Linked DNA regions of Homo sapiens: all the other regions are linked to region 1. Evidence: fine-mapped expression QTL. A gene starts in region 1. Each other region holds a variant in brackets. All regions are shown on one strand. Distances are from middle to middle.

Region 1 (5,971 bases):
TACAGGCGTGTGCCACCATGCCCAGCTAAGGATTTATTTTTTGTTTTTATTTTTTTTTAGAGATGGGTGTCGCTGGGATCCTCCAGCCAGCCTCCCGAGTAGCTGGGACTACAGGCTCACACCAGGGTGCCACGCTCATTCAACATTTATTGAGCACCTACTGTGTGCCAGGCACTGTTCTAGACCTGATCCTGCCCTCATGAGCTCAGACCCAAGGAGGAAGGCAGGCAGGATCCAGAAGTCTTACTTAATCTGTTTTTTGTTTTTTGTTTTTTTTTCTGACAGAGTCTTGCTCTGTCACCCAAACTGGAGTGCAGTGGTGTGATCTTGGCTCACTGCAACCACCGCCTCCCGGGTTTAAGCAATTCTTCTGCCTCAGCCTCCCGGGTAGCTGGGATTACAGGCGCCTGCCACCACGCCCGACTAATTTTTGTATTTTTAGTAGACATGGGGTTTCACCATGTTGGCCAGGCTGGTCTCGAACTCCTGACCTCAAGTGATCCGCCTGCCTCGGCCTCCCAAAGTGCTAGGATTACAGGCGTGAGCCACTGTGCCCAGCTTCTCCTTTAATCTTGAGTGCCTTTCCCTAGTCTCTCTCTGTCCGAGGACAGAATTTTAGTCTTCACAGTCTGAAATCACCCGCGGGGATTTGTATGTTTATACAGGGATCCTGCTCCCTCACTAGCCAGGAGCAGGGACCCCTACTGGGTTTGTTGGTTGCTGCTGCCCCAAAGCCTGGTCACAGTGCCCAGTACATCGTAAGTAGACACTTGGGAAAGAGATGTGAAATGAGCTAATAAATAAAATGATGGCGCAAAAGCAGGCTCCGCGAGCACGATTTCGCGGAATCCTAGGTGTGTGTCATTACCCACTTTGCAGAGGAGGAAATTGAGACTCAGGAAGGCAAAGCCGCCTGCCGGGCCCCACCGCAGCTCAGTGGTATGTGGCTATGGGATGTAGCAGAAGAAGCAAAGGTAGCCCCAAAAAGCGTTCCCAATTCCCGCAAACCTCCCCCCCACACACACACACAGGCAGGAGAGACATAGCAGGGTTTGCACCGATGGGGGTGGGATGGGGACCGGGGACAGAGGGACAGTGCAAAGCAACTTAGGGGTCTCTCTCCTCAGTCCCCAGGGCTGGAGGTGCTGTGCTGGCAGATTAGGAAATGCTTGGGGTTGATGGGGAAGCTTCCGGCGCTCTATCCCCAGTTCTGGAAGCTGAGGCTCCGGGAACCCTGTTTTGCTGAAGCTGGGCAGCTCCAGTCTCCAGAGCCAGGAAGAGACCCCCGCGCCTATCCGGGAATCCCCGACATCTGGGATTCTCTCCAAACACCCCCAGGCTGATGACGGGGCCGAATCCCTAAAGGGCATACGGTGGGGGTGGGGGTACGACTTTCCTGGGGAGCCGGGGAACCCCCTACCTTCCTGGCCCCCTCCCACTGTGGCACCGTGTCCCCCTCCCCACCGCAGCTCGCAGCCCCAAGCTTACCTTGCGGGGGGCCTGGGGAGGGGATGCCCCGCCCTCCCTGGCCTGGGGGGCGGGAGGGGACGGGGGTGTCCAGACCCTTTGTTTGCTGGTGTGTGTGTGTATGTGTGTGTGCGATTGTGAGAGCCGCCGGGGTGTGGGTCCGTGCGCGCGCGTGCCCGGGCCGTGACGGCCACTGATGTGCTGGACTGCCAGGGTGGAGGGGAAGAGGGAGGGGTAGGAGATGGGGACTCCCCCGCCCCTGCCCGCCCACTCGCGGGTTTGAATGAAGCGCGAGGGGGAAGGGCGGCAGCGGGAGGACGTTTTTGTCCGATGGCCCTTCCCGCTCCATGCACCGGGGAATCCTCCCCCTTCTGGAGAACTTCGCTCGCTCTCTCCAGGCACTGCCTCCAACGTCGGCTCCAGGGGAGACTAGGAAGAGGCGCCCCTCACCGGAGTGGCTGGAGCTCCTCCTATCCAGCCTGACCCCCGAGGGAGCACCCTTTAATCTGAGATAATCCTGGCCCAAGGCTGCAACACGGCCTATTATCCTGGTATCAAAGCGTGGATTGGGATGCATGGAAGTGTGAGGTGGTCGAGGCCCTGCATGCTTAGAGTAATGGAGTCCTTAGAGCCCCGGCGGAGGAAGCGTACCCCAAGACGAACGGGGAGGGGCTATGCGTGGCCCCAGACTGTGACGACAAGGAAAGCCCCCTTCCACCCCTCCACGATTCCCCCCACCAAGCGCGGGGCCAGGAATACGCGCCGTGGGCTAGACTCTAGCGACACCCAGCGGCCAGCGGGGTGGGGAGCCGAGACCCGTTTTGAGGGGGTCCGGGTGATTCCAAAGTGTGTGTGTGTGTGTGTGTGCGTGTGTGTGTGTGTGTGTGTGTGTGTGCGCGCGCGCGCTCGCGCGAGTCCTCGCTGCGAATGGCAGGAGGTGGAAGACAAGGAGAAGGCTGTTGCCGAGGCGGGGAAACCCCAGCTCCCAAGGCAGGGCCACAGTCTCCCCTCCACGTTTAACCCTGCAAGGGGAGGGCCATACCACCCCCGATTTAGACACCCCCAGGGCAGGTCCAGTCCTCCTCGGGCTGAGAAAGTCCGAGGAGTCATCAGGCGCCCCTCTCCAGCGCAGGCTTAGGTCCCCGTTTACGAAGGGCAGGGGGAGGGCCTTCCCGCCGTGTCCCTACCCCTTGCAGACGTCACTGCGGCGTGGCTGAGGGGACAGTCCTCTCAGTCTCATCAACCGTCCCCTCCCTGCCACCCCAAACGCCCACCGTGGAGCGGCGGGAGATGAGGGGGGCTCGGAGTTGAAGCGCGCACTCATATGCCCCCAGGAGACCTAGCGGAGCCCCAGCGCCCGATGACGCGGAGTCTCTGCGGGAACTCCAGGGGGCCGGAACACTTACGCAGGGCCCTTTAAGGCTGGCTGGGTAGCTAGTGCCGCTGCCGCGGTTACTAGGGATGTGACGTCACACAGGGCGGGGTTTCCCGCGCTCGGCGGAAGCGGAAGGGGCGGGGCTCCGCGCTCCTAGTCTCCACTGCTGCCGCCGTCGCCGCCACCCGAGCCGGAGCGGGCTGGGCCGCCAAGGCAAGATGGTGGACTACAGCGTGTGGGACCACATTGAGGTGTCTGATGATGAAGACGAGACGCACCCCAACATCGACACGGCCAGTCTCTTCCGCTGGCGGCATCAGGTAAGGCGCGCGCGCCCATCCCTTTCCCCACTCCCGGACCCCGCTTCGGAGTTGTGATCCCCGATACTGCCCAGGGACCCCGCTGTTCACACCTAGGATTCTCACCCCCCCAGTCTGGATTTTCAGGAGCTTCGATTCAACTCCGGGACCCCAGTACCATTGGGACCCTGAGTCCCTGCCCTGGATCTCCGCTCCCCCACTCCCTGCTCCGATTTTTGCGTGGGATTCCCTATTCACCCCCTAGAACTTCTTCATAGTCTGGAGTCCCCTAGACGAGTCTTGGGGGTTCTCCCTAATTCTGTTCGGCAGTTAACATTTATACCCAGAACTCTGCCTCAAAGTTTGGACCCCAAATTCTTCTAGATGATCCCTCATCCTATTCGGGTATTCACTTCCTATCTGGGATCTCCCATCGCCCCCCCACCTCCGTAGTCTGGACCCCCAATACTTTGGTCTGTCCCGGGATCTACTTTCCGGGATCTTGATCCGGGGTTCCCATTCAGATCCGGAGTCGCCACTCCTTTTCTAAACGGAACAAGGAACTCTGTGCTACTCTGATATTCCTGTCCCTGCCCACACCCAGGACCCCCTTCCTAGAGTGTAGAACCGTCCCCCTTCAGGATCCTTAGTCTCACCGAGTACTTGGGTTTTGGAATCTGGTTCCCCTCTGGATCTAACTACCAGCTCCAACCCGATAGAGCCTCACATTCCAGCCTCTCCTTTGGCCTCCGGTAGACCCATTTCCCATTATACCAGGAAATCCTGCCCACGTGGCTTCCGGCCTAGCCAGAGCCCCTGCTCCTACTTGGTATTGCAGACCCTGTCACCACCCACTTCCCAGACTGGCTTCCTGTATGAGCCTCAGCCAGCATTGGAAACTCTCCCCTAACTCAAGCCCAGAACCCCAAACCCACCCCACCTTTTGTCCCCAGCCTGTTAGCTACTCTGTGACCCAAATTGTCCCTGCTCTTATCCAGGGACTCTCCTGGTCTGATTCTAAATTCACCACCCCTTCTTCTATCTGACCACAACAGAGGTCCCGAATCCAGACCCCAGAATCCCAAGCCTGGGTGATCCATGTCCCACCACCCTCTCAGTGCTCACGAGCCAATGGGATGACTAAGACTTAAAGGTTTAACCTCCTGCTACCCCAAATGAGTGTGCCTGCATTACATACCAGTGTCTGTTGTATTCCTTTTTTTTTTTTTTTTTTTTTTTTTGAGACGAAGTTTCCTTCTTGTCGCCCAGGCTGGAGTGCAGTGGCACAATCTTGGCTCACTGCAACCTCTGCCTCCCGGGTTCAAGTGATTCTCCTGCCTCAGCCTCCTGAGTAGCTGGGATTACAGGCATGATGCACCACCATGCCTGGCTAATTTTGTATTTTTGGTAGAGACAGGGTTTCTCCATGTTGGTCAGGCTGGTCTTGAACTTCCGACCTCAGTTGATCCACCCACCTCGGCCTCCCAAAGTGCTGGGATTACAGGCGTGAGCCACCGCACCCAGCCATGTTGTGCTCTTAAACGAAGGGCATATACCTCTCAGAACCTTCTAGTGAGGATCTCTTACCCCACCCTCCCATAGGGCAATTCCCCATCATTTATCCAGAAACAACTAGAAGGTCCCTTTCCCATCCTTCCAGAATACTCTGGAATACGGCATTAGTCTCTTCATCTAGCTCCCAGTCCCACTTCCAGACCTATTCCTTAAATCCTGAGTCTCCTGGGTAGTGTACCTGCCAAGCAAGCCACTGGAGTGTGGGAAGAAAGTTCTAGCGCTTCTATTTCTTGCCGTGTGTAACATTTTATTATGAAATATTTAAGACTTCCTCAAAGCTCCAAAGACTATTCTTGGGAAGACCTATTTCTGTCACATAAAGAGGTTAATCTTTACTACTGTGGAGAATGGTTTGGTCCTGCCGGGTGGGAGGGCCCCCCTCCTGCAGCGTAGTGTACCTGCCACACCCTCCTCCCTCTGGCACAGAGCTTTTCCTGTCCTGCCGCTGAGAACCCCGGTGGTTGTAGTGGCATGTAAGGGAGGCAGGGGGCTTCAGCGTCTCCAGCACAGGTTCAAGGACAGGCAAGCTTGGGTTCCAATCCTAGCCCCACCTCTTGCTGCTTCTTTCTTTCTTTGATGTGGCAAGACTCACAAGAAGCCTCCCTGAGCCCATGTGAAACCTGGGATAATATGGCCCCACCTCCCTGAGACCTTTGTAAGAATGAATTAAGACTGGGTCAGGAAAACTTGGGGCAGGTTTGGAAGGAAGCATTGTGGAGGGGAAGGAGAGATTGCTGTCGTTCAGAGCACAGGCCTGACTAGGTTCAAATCTCAGCTCTGTCTGTATCACTCACGTGCTGCGTGACTGCCAGGGAGCTGTTTGATCGCTCTGTGCCTCAGTTTCCCTACCTGAGAATCTGAATGATGTCCACCCCATAAGGTTGTTGTAAGGCTTACCTTATTCATTTAATATTTGTAATCCTTTTGGGGCAGTGGCTATTATCATCATCATCATTTAAATAATTTCTGTTCATGGTTAAAAAAAAAAAAATCTGTAGCCACATGTGGTGGCACATGCCTATAGTCCTAGCTACTCAGGAGACTGAGGCAGAAGGATCATTTGAGCCCAGAAGTTCAAGTCCAGCCTGAGCAACATAGCAAGACCTTGTCTCTCTCTTTTTTTTTTCGAGACAGGGCCTTGCTTTGTCACCCTGAGATGGCAGTGGCGCCATCTCAGCTCACTGCAACTTCCACCTTCCGGGCTCAAGTGATCCTCCTACTTCTGCCTCCTGAGTAGCTGGGACCACAGGTACAC
Region 2 (5,000 bases), 23 kb before region 1:
GGACACATAAAAAGCTCAGAAAAGTGTCTGAACCTAGTAAGCACTCAATATGAGCTACAGTTATTATCAGTATTTGACAAATATTTACTGAAGGCTTATAATATGCAAATCACTATACTAGCTAGAGGGTATAGATGATGATGATAATGACGATGATGGTGATGATAGCAACTAACCCTTTAGAAAGCTTCCTGTGCATCCAGTGCCTCTAGCTATGATCTCTCTCTCTCTCTCTCTCTCAATATCTCTCTCTCTCTCTCTCTCTCTCTCTCTCTCTCTCGAGACAGGATCTCACTCTGTCATCGAGGCTGGAGTACAGTGGCACGATCATAGCTCACTGCAGTCTCAACTTCCTGCGGTCAAGTGATCCTTCAACCTCAGCTTCCTGAGCAGCTAAGTAGCTGAGTAGCATGTGCGCCACCATGCCTGACTAATTTTTTGTACTTTTTCTAGAGATGGGGTTTTCCTATGTTGCCCAGGCTGGTCTTGAGCTCCTGGACTCAAGTGATCTGCCCGCCTTGGCCTCCCAAAGTGCTGGGATTACAGGCGTGAGCCACCACACTTGGTCTTATGATCTCATTTAATCCTCACAAAGTACCCACCAGACACCCACCAGGTGATATTCTTTTTTTTTTTTTTTTTTTGACAGGGTCTCACTCTGTCACCCAGACTGCAGTGCAAGTGACATGATATTGGCTCACTGCAACCTCCACCTCCCAGGCTCAAGTGATCCGCCTCCCTCTCAGCCTCCCAAAGTGTGTTGGGCATGAGCCACTATACCTGTCCCAGAAATGCATTTTTGTTCACCGACCAAGGTTTCAATGCCCTTAGCTTCCCTGAATTGTTTTGCCAGTTCGTCAGATCAGCCCTTGGGAATACGGTTTTTACTAGGCCCATTTCAGAGACGGGGAAGCCAAGGCCCAGAGAGGAGTGACTTGGCTAGGGTCTCCCAATCTAGAAAGATCAGAGCTGGATTATGGACCCAGCTGTCTGGCTTCAGAGACAGGAATTTTAGCCATGAGGCTACACAAGCCCTTTATGGATGAGTTTCCTTCCAGCCCAATGATGCTTGTCCCGTCCTAGGAAGCCAGATGTAAACTGAGGCCTAAAGCCAACCTTGATCATGGCCTAATGGTCTATGAGCCCTTACATGAGCTGCCTGTCACCTCGCTCCCTCCTTTTTTTCCACTGCCTCCTCGCTCACTCTGCCTCAGACACACTTGCCTCCAACGTATCAGACACACTCCCACCACAGGACCTCTGCACTGGCTCTTCCCTCTGGTTGGCACCCTCTTCCATCAGACACCCATGTAGCAACCTCCCTCTTTTGTTTTTTGTTAGACGGAGTCTTGCTCTGTCACCCAGGCTGAAGTGCACTGGCACGGTCTTGGCTCACTGCAACCTCCACTTCCTGGGTTCAAGCAGTTCTCCTGCCTCAGCCTCCTGAGTAGCTGGGATTACAGGCACTTGCCACTGCGCCCAGCTAATTTTTGTATTTTTAGTAGAGATGGAGTTTCAACATCCTGGCCAGACTGGTCTTGAACTCGTGACCTCGTGATCCACCTGCCTCGGCCTCCCAAAGTGCTGGGATTACAGGTGTGAGCCACTGCGCCCGGCCCTTACCTCCCTCATTTTATTTGGGTCTTTGTTCAAATGTCACCTCCTCAGAGAGGCCTTCCCTGACCTCAGGATCCCTCTTTTTTTCATATCCTATGTGTGACCATCTTGAATTATCATACAGCTTTACTTGCTATTTCTTTTTTTTTTTTTGAGACGGAGTCTGGCTTTGTCACCCAGGCTGGAGTGAAGTGGCGCAATCTCGGCTCACTGCAACCTCCGCCTCCTGGGTTCATGCAATCCTCCTCCCACCTCAGCCTCCCAAGTAGCTGGGATTGCAGGCGTGCGCCCAGCTAATTTTTGTATTTTTAGTAGAGACAGGGTTTTGCCAGGTTTTGGCCAGGCTGGTCTCGAACTCCTGGCCTCAAGTAATCCACCTGCCTTGGCCTCCCAAAGTGCTGGGATTACAGGCCTGAGCCACCGCACCCAGCCCTTTACTTGCTATTTCTGCTTCACCCTCTAGTCTGACAATTTCAGGGCAGCAGGGAATGTGTCTATGGCAAGGGTGTGCAATCTTTTGGCATCCCTGGGCCACACTGAAAGGCGAAGAATTGTCTTGGGCCACACATAAAATACACTAACACTAACAATAGCTAATGAGAGG[G/A]AAAAAAAAAAGAATCTCATTGTTTTAAGAAAGTTTACGAATTTGTGTTGGGCCGAATTCAATGCCATCCTGGGCCACGGGTTGGACAAACTTGGTCTACAGCATTCTCAGCCACAGTTCTGAAGGCGCTCAGTGTTTGTGGAATGAACGAATCTGCTAGAAATGAGGAGACTGAGGCTCTGACAGGTGAAGGTCACACAGCGAGTCCAGGACAAAAGCTGGATTTACTTCTTTTATTTTTTTCTTTTTGTAGAGATAGGGTCTCACCATGCTGCCCAGGCTGGTCTCAAACTCCAGCCTCAGGCAATCCTCCCACATCAGCCTCCCAAAGTGCTGGGTGTGAGCCACCTCGCCTGGCCAAAAGTGGATTTGAACTCTTTTCTTTCCTTCCTTCCCTCCTTCCTTTTTTTTTTTTTTTTTTTTTTTTTTTTTGACAGGGTCTCAGTCTCTCGCCCAGACTGGAGTGCAGTGGCCCAATCTCGGCTCACCGCAACCTCCGCCTTCCAGGCTCAACCAATTCTCCTGCCTCAGCCTCACCAGTAGCTGGGATTACAGGCATGCACCACTACCACCTGGCTAATTTTTGTATTTTTAGTAGAGACGGGGTTTCACCATGTTGGCCAGACTGGTCTCAATTTCCTGACCTCAAATAATCCACCCGCCTCAGCCTCCCAAAGTGCTGGGATTACAGGCATGAGCCACCGCGCCCAGCCAGATTTGAACTCTTTCATACTCCACAATGAAAAGAGTGGGCTCAGATGCCCTCACAATTCTGTTCTCACCCTGCCAGACTGTGGCTCTCCCAGGTCCAAAGCCCCAGTTTTCCTAAAGTCATAAGAGCCTGCAGTCAATCTGTTACCAATGAAATATGGGGCACCTTCCCCACCAGCCGGGTTTGCGGTTTGGGGGACGCCCCCTTTCTCTCTGCTGATGTCATTTGAGGAAGTACTTTCTCAGAACACCAGCTCCTGGCTGCCCAGCACCTACGTCAAACATATCAGCCTCACCACAGCCCTGGGGGTGGACAGTTCTTATTTTTCAGCCCCGTTTGACTGATGAGGAAACTGAGGCTCCGAGAGGCACAAGCACTGACCCCAAGTCACACAGCGAGTCAGCGGGCAGGGCTGCCATGTGAATGTTACCCAGCGGTCTGCAGTGGAGCAGATCTGTTTTTTGTTTTTTGTTTTTTTTTTTGAGACAGGGTCTCGCTCTGCTGCCAGGCTGGAGTGCAGTGGTGCCATCTCGACTCACTGCAACCTCTGCCTCCCGGGTTCAAGCGATTCTCCTGCCTCAGCCTCCCGAGTAGCTAGGATTACAGACGTGTGCCACCATACCCGGCTAATTTTTGTATTTTTAGTAGAAACGGGGTTTCACCATGTTGGCCAGGATGATCTTGAACTCCTGACCTCATTCGTGATCCGCCCACCTCGGTCTCCCAAAGTGCTCAGATTACAGAGCCACCGCGCCTGGCCGAGATCTGGTTTTTAACTCCTATTCTCACCTTCCTCGCTGTGTGACCTTGGGCAAGTCCCATGGTCTCTGTTTCCCGGGCAGGAAGCGCAGAGCCAAGGATGCTGGGGTTCACCGGCCTGCCGGGCAAGCGCGCAGAGGCGGGACGGGAACTCCACGGCTGCAACTTTTCGGCCAGGTTCCTCCCTGTCCTCCAGACGACAGTCCCCGCAGCGTGTGGCAGGGGCTGGCGCATGGGGAAAGCGGCCTGGTCCCAAGCCCGGGAGGGCGAGGACCCCACACGCAGCCTGCGGTCAGCCGGCCTGGCGCCCGCTCTCCAGGACGCTCAATAAGCATAAAATAATAATACCGGGCGCCGCGACGGTGGCGGCGACTTTGCTTTGCTCCGGGACTGGCGGCGTCCCTGGAGCAGGTCCGCGCTCGGAGCGCACACCCAGGCTGTGCCTTCCTCGTCGTCCAGCAGAGGGCGCGCGGGGAGACCCGCTCCCAACCCACATCCAGGGACTTGGGAGCGCCAGGGACAAGGGGGAGGCGAGGACCCAAGTGGAGACAGAGACCAGCGACCAGACGGATACCCCAGCTCGGCTGCCTCCACCTGCTCCTGGGGCCACACTGTGCCCCCACCTCGATGGGGAAGTTTTAGGGCCCAGGGAGGGGGGACGCAGGGTCCGTATGTTGGCCCCGTCCCCAGTTCAGACAGCTCCCCACCCCCACCACCAAAGTCCTCCTCTTCCTCCCTCTCCATCTGCCTCTTGACAGATCGTGGCTGTGCCGTGACTCAGCCGTCTCATACATCTTCAGGTCTGGAGGGGAGGTTTGGATGACATCTCCGGTTGGGGGTGGGCAGTGCCCTCTCTCTGGGGATTCCTTTGACCCAAATCGGGGGAGCTCGCTGGACTCCTTTTGCGGTAGCTGGATGAACTCCAGTGTGGGGAGCACTGAATCCTGTATGTGCCCTGGTAAAAACCCCCTTTTTGAAGAAATGCCTGTTCTAAGCATTGAGGTTGCCATCAGACACCTTCCTCCTTTTCCCTGGGAATGGGGGAGGACCCTGGCACTGATGCCAGCTACAGCCCACCCATCAGTCCCAGCTTTGGACCTCAGCACAGACACTGAAGGGTGCACAGGCCCACAGTGAAACAGAAACCCGAGTCTACGTGGGGATGTGGTTAAGGTTCCTGTTTTTTTCTACTCACCCTGGAGAAATGGGATCCACCCAGGTCCCCCCTCCTTAGTCCAGGTCCCTGAATGGAGATCTACTGATTATGTTAAGTCCTTTACACACATCTCCAAGCTCACAGAACCCTCA
Region 3 (5,971 bases), 280 kb after region 1:
CTCTGTCACCTCAGGTCACCTTGTGCCTCTTCCCACTTGATCTCCCCCTTCCCAGTCCCTGGGCAGCCTCCCATCCAGTTTTGTCTCCATAGATGACACCTGCCTGTTCAGGCCAGCATGGGCTCTTGTGTTTCAGATCTTTCAGCATAAATGCCTTTGGGATTCATCCATGTCATTAATATGTGTATCAGTTTTGTCCTTTTTAAAAAAAATATATATATATTTTAGAGGCAGGATCTTGCTCTGTTGCCCAGGCTGGAGTGCAGCGATGTTCTACTGCAGCCTTGATCTCCTGGGCTTAAGTGATCCTCCTGCCTCAGCCTCCTGAGTAGCTGGAACTACAGGCGCATGCCACCATGCCCAGCTAAGTTTTACATTTTTTTTGTGGAGATGGGGTCTCACTGTGTTGCTCAGGGTGGTCTCAAACTCCTGGCCTCACGTGATCCTCCCACCTCAGCTTCTGTAGTAGCTGGGACCACAGGCATGTGCCGCCATACCCAGCTAATCATTATTTTTATTTTTATTTATTTTTGAGACGGAATCTCACTCTGTCACCAGGCTGGAGTACGGTGGTGCGATCTTGGCTCACTGCAACCTCTGCCTCCTGGGTTCAAGCTATTCTCATGCCTCAGTCTCCCGAGTAGCTGGGATTACAGGCCTGCCACCAGGCCTGGCTAATTTCTATGTTTTTAGTAGAGATGGGGTTTCGCCATGTTGGCCAGGCTGGTCTCAGACTCCTGGGCTCAAGCGATCTGCCTGCCTCGGCCTCCCAAAGTGCTGGGATTACAGACATGAGCTACCATGCCTGGTAGCTGATTTTTATATTTTTTTATAGACAGGATCTCGCTTTGTTGCCCAGGCTGGTCTCAGAATCCTGGGCTCAAGCGATCTACCTGCCTTGGCATCCCCAAATGCTGGGATTATAGGCATGAACCACTGCGCCTGGACAAGAATATATTAACTATACTCACTATGTTATACAATAAATCTCTTAGAAAGCCTTTATTTGAACTTTTTTTCTTTATATTGTTTGGAAACAACTACAGTCTCAAGAGCAGTAGATTGAATTGTGATGCAGGTCAGGCCTTTGTATCCAAGGGTTCCACCTCTGGCATTCAACCAACCACAGATTTAAAATATTCAGAAAAATTCCACAAAGTTCCAAAAAGCAAAACTTGTATTTGCCACTTACCAAGTACTACATGGAATCCATGAGAATAAAGCAACGTGTAGACGTTATGTCAGGTATTACAAATAATCTAGAGACGACATAAAGTACACAGGAGAGGCCGGGCGCAGTGGGTCATGCCTGTAATCCCAGCACTTTGGGAGGCCAAGGTAGGAGGAACACTTGAGGCCAGGAGTTCAAGACCAGCCTGGCCAACATGGCGAAACACCTTCTCTACAAAAAATAACAAAAATTTGCTGAGCATGGTGGCACACACCTGTAGTCCCAGCTACTCCAGAGGCTGAGATGGGAGGATCACTTGAGCCCAGCAGGTGGAGGTTGCATTAAGCCGAGATTGCACTAGCCTGGGTGACAAAGCAAGACTCTGTCAAAAAGTAGTGTACACAGGAGAATATGTGTAGCGTATATGCAAATACTATGCCATTTTATTTTATTTTATTTTATTTTATATTTGAGACAGAGTCTCACTCTGTCGCCCAGGCTGGAGTGCAGTAGCACAATCTTGGCTCACTGCAACCTCTGCTTCCCGGGTTCAAGTGATTCTCCTGCCTCAGCCTCCCAAGTAACTGAGATTACAGGCATGTGCCGCCACGCCCGGCTAATTTTTTTGTATTTTTAGTAGAGACGGGGTTTCACCATGTTGGTCAAGCTGGTCTTGAACTCCTGACCTCAAATGATCCACCCGCCTCAGCCTCCCAAAGTGCTGGAACTACAGGTGTGAGCCACCATGCCCGGCCTATGACATTTTATATTAGGGATTTGAGCACATTCTGATTTTGGTACCACATGGGGTCCTAGAACCAATCCCCTGGGGATACCGAGGGATGGCTGGACATAGATTTGTATACACATGTGTATCCACGTCTAGGCTACTTTTCTAGGAGTTGAATGACTGGATTGAAACTTTAGAACTGGCACAGCCGCTAAAAGTCAAGCAGGTGTTTTATAGGGATTTCATTAACTTTGCAGACTTCTGGAAGAATTGACATGTTAATGACAAGCCTTCCTTTCTAAGAACAGGGTTTGTCCTGTTTGTTCAGGAATTCCTTTGTGTCCACAGCTTTTCATCCAGATCTTGCAGACTTCATAACTTGATTCCTAAGTATTTAGTCCCTTCATTACTAATATAAATGGGATGTTTTCTTGATTTCTAAACCATGGTCCTTTGCCTATGGAGAGATGCTCCATTTGTATTGGCTGTGATTTTGTAAACTGTGTTTTTTGAATCTAACCAACTTGTTGAATTCCTTTTTTTTTTTTTTTTTGGAGATGGAGTCTCACTCTGTCACCCAAGCTGCAGTGCAGTGGCGCGATCTCTGCTCACTGCAACCTCCATCTTTGGGTTCAAGGGATTCTCTTGCCTCAGCCTCCTGAGTAGCTGAGATTACAGGCATGGGCCATCACACCCAGCTAATGTTTGTATTTTTAGTAGAGATGGGGTTTCACCATGTTGGCCAGGCTGGTCTTGAACTCCTGACCTCGGGTGATCCGCTTGCCTCAGCCTCCCAAAGTGCTAGGATTACAGGTGTGAACCACCGCGCCTGGCCTGAATTTCCTTGTTTTTAATCCCACTTTTTCAGTGGTCACATTTTCAGGTATACGATCCTTCACCAAGAACAACTTGAGGATGTATTTTGGTGTAAGAATTAGAAACCTTGTCTTTTCTTTTTAGAGACAGGGTCTTGTTCTTTCACCCAGACTGGACTGCAGTGATGCGATCATAGCTCACTGCAGCCTCGAACTCCTTCGCTCCAGAGATCCCCCAACCTCAGTCTCTGGAGTAGCTGGGACTACAAGTATGTACCATCACGCCTAACTAATTTTTATTTTTATTTTTAGTAAAGATGAGTTCTTGCTATGTTGCCCAGGCTGGTCTCAAACTCCTGGGCTCCAATGATCGTCCCTCCTCATCCTTCCAAAGTGCTGGGATTACAGGTGTAAGCCACCGTGCCTGGCTTCTTTTTTTTTCCTTTTAATATATGATTATTTTTTGTAAAGATGGCGTCTCACTCTGTTGCCCAGGCTGGTCTCCAGTGATTTCAATTCTTGTAAGTATAAAGCAGATGTGGAAGTGCTGGGTCATTTGGTGGTTCTATTTTTAATGTTTTGAGGAACCACCATACCATAGTTCATAG[T/C]GGAAGGCTGTTTTTTAAATGAAATAAACATGTAAGGCTGAGGTGCCCATCTACTTCCCTAGAAAAACCACAGTAAGGACATTGCCACGTCTCCTTTCTGCCCCTGTTTTTTGGCTGTTACCACATCTGCATGTCCATCAATTTAGTATTTCTTTCTTTTTATCTCTATTTACTTTTTTTTTTTTTTTGAGATGGAGTCTCTGTTGCCTAGGCTGGAGTGCAATGGCGCAATCTTGGTTCGCTGCAACCTCCGCCTCCTGGGTTCAAGTGATTCTCCTGCCTCAGCCTCCTTAGTAGCTGGGATTACAGGCACGCACCACCACGCCCAGCTGTTTTTTTTTTTTTTCTTTTGAAACAGAGTTACCTTCTCGTTGCCCAGGCTGGACTGCAATGGCAGGATCTCGGCTCACCACAACCTCTGCCTCCTGGGTTCAAGCGATTCTCCTGCCTCAGCCTCCTGAGTAGCTGGGATTACAGGCATGCGCCACCACGCCCAGCTAATTTTGTATTTTTAGGAGAGACAGGGTTTCTCCATGTTGGTCAGGCTGGTCTCGAACTCCCAACCTCAGGTGATCCACCTACCTTGGCCTCCCAAAGTGCTGGGATTACAGGCGTGAGCCACCATGCCTGGCCACACCCAGCTGATTTTTGTATTTTTAGTAGAGATGGGGTATCATCATGTTGGCCAGGCTCGTCTCGAACTCCTGACCTCAAGTGATCCTCCCACCTCGGCCTCCCAAAGTGCTGGGATTACAGGTGTGAGCCACCGCGCATGGCCTATTTTTATTTTTTTTTACAAAGTCTTGGCCGGGTGCGGCGGCTCACACCTATAATCCTAGCACTTTGGGAGGCCAAGACAGGCGAATCACCTGAGTTTGGAGTTCAAGACTAGCCTGGCCAACATGGAGAAACCCCGTCTCTACTAAAAATACAAAATTAGCTGGGCATGGTGGCACATGCCTGTAATTCCAGCTACTAGGGAAGCTGAGGCAGGAGAATCACTTGAACCCGGGAGGTGGAGGTTGCGGTGAGCTAAGATCATGCCACTGCACTCCAGCCTGGGCAACAAGAGCAAAACTCCATCTCAAAAAAAAAAAAGGAGTCTCACTCCATCGCCCAGGCTGGAGTTCAGTGGCGCAGTATTGGTTCATGGCAACCTCTGCCTCCCGGGTTCAAGGGATTGCCATGCCTCAGCCTCCCGAGCAGCTGGGATTACAGATGCCTGCCACCACACCTGGCTAATTTTTGTATTTGTAGTAGACAACAGGGGTTTCGCTATGTTGGCCAGGCTGGTCTCGAACTCCTGACCTCAAGGGATCCGCCCACCTTGGCCTCCCAATGTGCTGGGATTACAGACGTGATCCACTGTGCCCAGCAGAAACAGGACCTTTAGAGAGAAAATTAAACCCAGGTGTGGTGGCTTATGCCTGTAATCCCAGCACGTTGGGAGGCCGTGGCAGGCAAACCACTTGAGATCAGGAGTTTGAGACCAGCCTGGCCAACTTGGTGAAACCCCGTCTCTACTAGAAATACAAAAATACAAAAATTAGCCAGGTGTGGTGGCACATGCCTGTAGACCCAGCTACTCGGGAGGCTGAGGCAGGAGAATCACTGGAACCCAGGAGGTGGAGGTTGCCATTAGCTGAGATTGCACCACTGCACTCCAGCCTGGACTACAGAGTGAGACTTCACCTTTAAAAAAAATAATTAAAAAAAAAAAGTTTAAATGAGGTCATTAGGGTGGGCCCTAATCCAATATGACTGATGTCCTTAGAAGAAGAGATTGGGACATAGACACACACAGAGGAGGCCACGTGAGGACCGAGGGAGAAGGTGCCCCCACCTCAGAAGAAACCAACCCTGCCGACACTGTGATCTTGGACTTCCAGCCTCCAGAACTGAGAAAATAAATGTGTGCTGTTTAAGCCTCCTAGTCTGTGATATTTTGTTGTGAAAATGTGAGAAAAAGTAACTAATGTTAAGCTGGGTTTGCTCAATTCTGCTTTCCAGCGTAATTTCACAAAGCCCCTGACTCTGAGACACGTGAGACACGTCTGCGCAGCTCTACAGAACAAGGCTTTGAAGACAAAACAGGACAGAGCACAGGGCACACCATGTCCCTTGCCCGAGTCACTATATTCCTTAAATGAGTCTGGGCACGGTGGTTCATGCCTGTGATCCCAGCATTTTGGGAGACCAGGGCAAGGGCATCACCTTAGCCTGGGGAGGTTGAGGCTGCAGTGAGCTGTGATCGTGCCACTGCACTCCAGCCTGGGTGACAGAGAAAGACCCTGTCTCAAAAAAAAAAAAAAAAAAAAAAAGGCGTGCCAGGTGCGGTGGCTCATGCCTGTAATCCCAGCACTTTGGGAGGCCCAGGCAGGCGGATCACCTGAGGTCGGGAGTTCGAGACTACCCTGACCAATATGGAGAAACCCCCGTCTCTACTAAAAATACAAAATTAGCCGGGTGTGGTGGTGTGCATGCCTGTAATCCCAGCTACTCAGGAGGCTGAGGCGGGAGAACCGCTTGAACCCAGGAGGCGGAGGTTGCAGTGAGCTGAGATCGCACCACTGCACTCCAGCCTGGGCAATAGAGCAAGACTCCGTCCCCCAAAAAAAAAAGAAAAAAGAAAAAAAGGACCTGGGCC

What was found.
Region 2: its variant is fine-mapped to the expression of CDC37 in whole blood (TOPMed, PIP above 0.99).
Region 3: its variant is fine-mapped to the expression of CDC37 in whole blood (TOPMed, PIP 0.94).

The regions. Positions count from the first base shown.
Region 1 is chr19:10,400,569-10,406,539 of GRCh38, reverse strand. CDC37 (cell division cycle 37, HSP90 cochaperone) reads left to right here and starts at 2,998. Exons shown (of 8, transcript NM_007065.4): 1 at 2,998-3,162. The coding sequence starts at 3,061. It overlaps MIR1181 (microRNA 1181), which reads left to right and starts at 3,002; the gene lies at 3,002-3,082. RefSeq lists silencers at 1,463-1,512, 3,223-3,282 and an enhancer at 2,473-2,822.
Region 2 is chr19:10,423,638-10,428,637 of GRCh38, reverse strand. The region is part of intron 1 of PDE4A (phosphodiesterase 4A); the gene reads right to left. Among named protein-coding and RNA genes, the nearest start is that of PDE4A, 5.6 kb to the right of the region's middle. RefSeq lists a silencer at 229-298 and an enhancer at 2,790-2,869. The variant G/A (reference allele first, on the strand shown) is at 2,222.
Region 3 is chr19:10,123,863-10,129,833 of GRCh38, reverse strand. No RefSeq gene overlaps it. Among named protein-coding and RNA genes, the nearest start is that of EIF3G, 6.9 kb to the right of the region's middle. The variant T/C (reference allele first, on the strand shown) is at 3,325.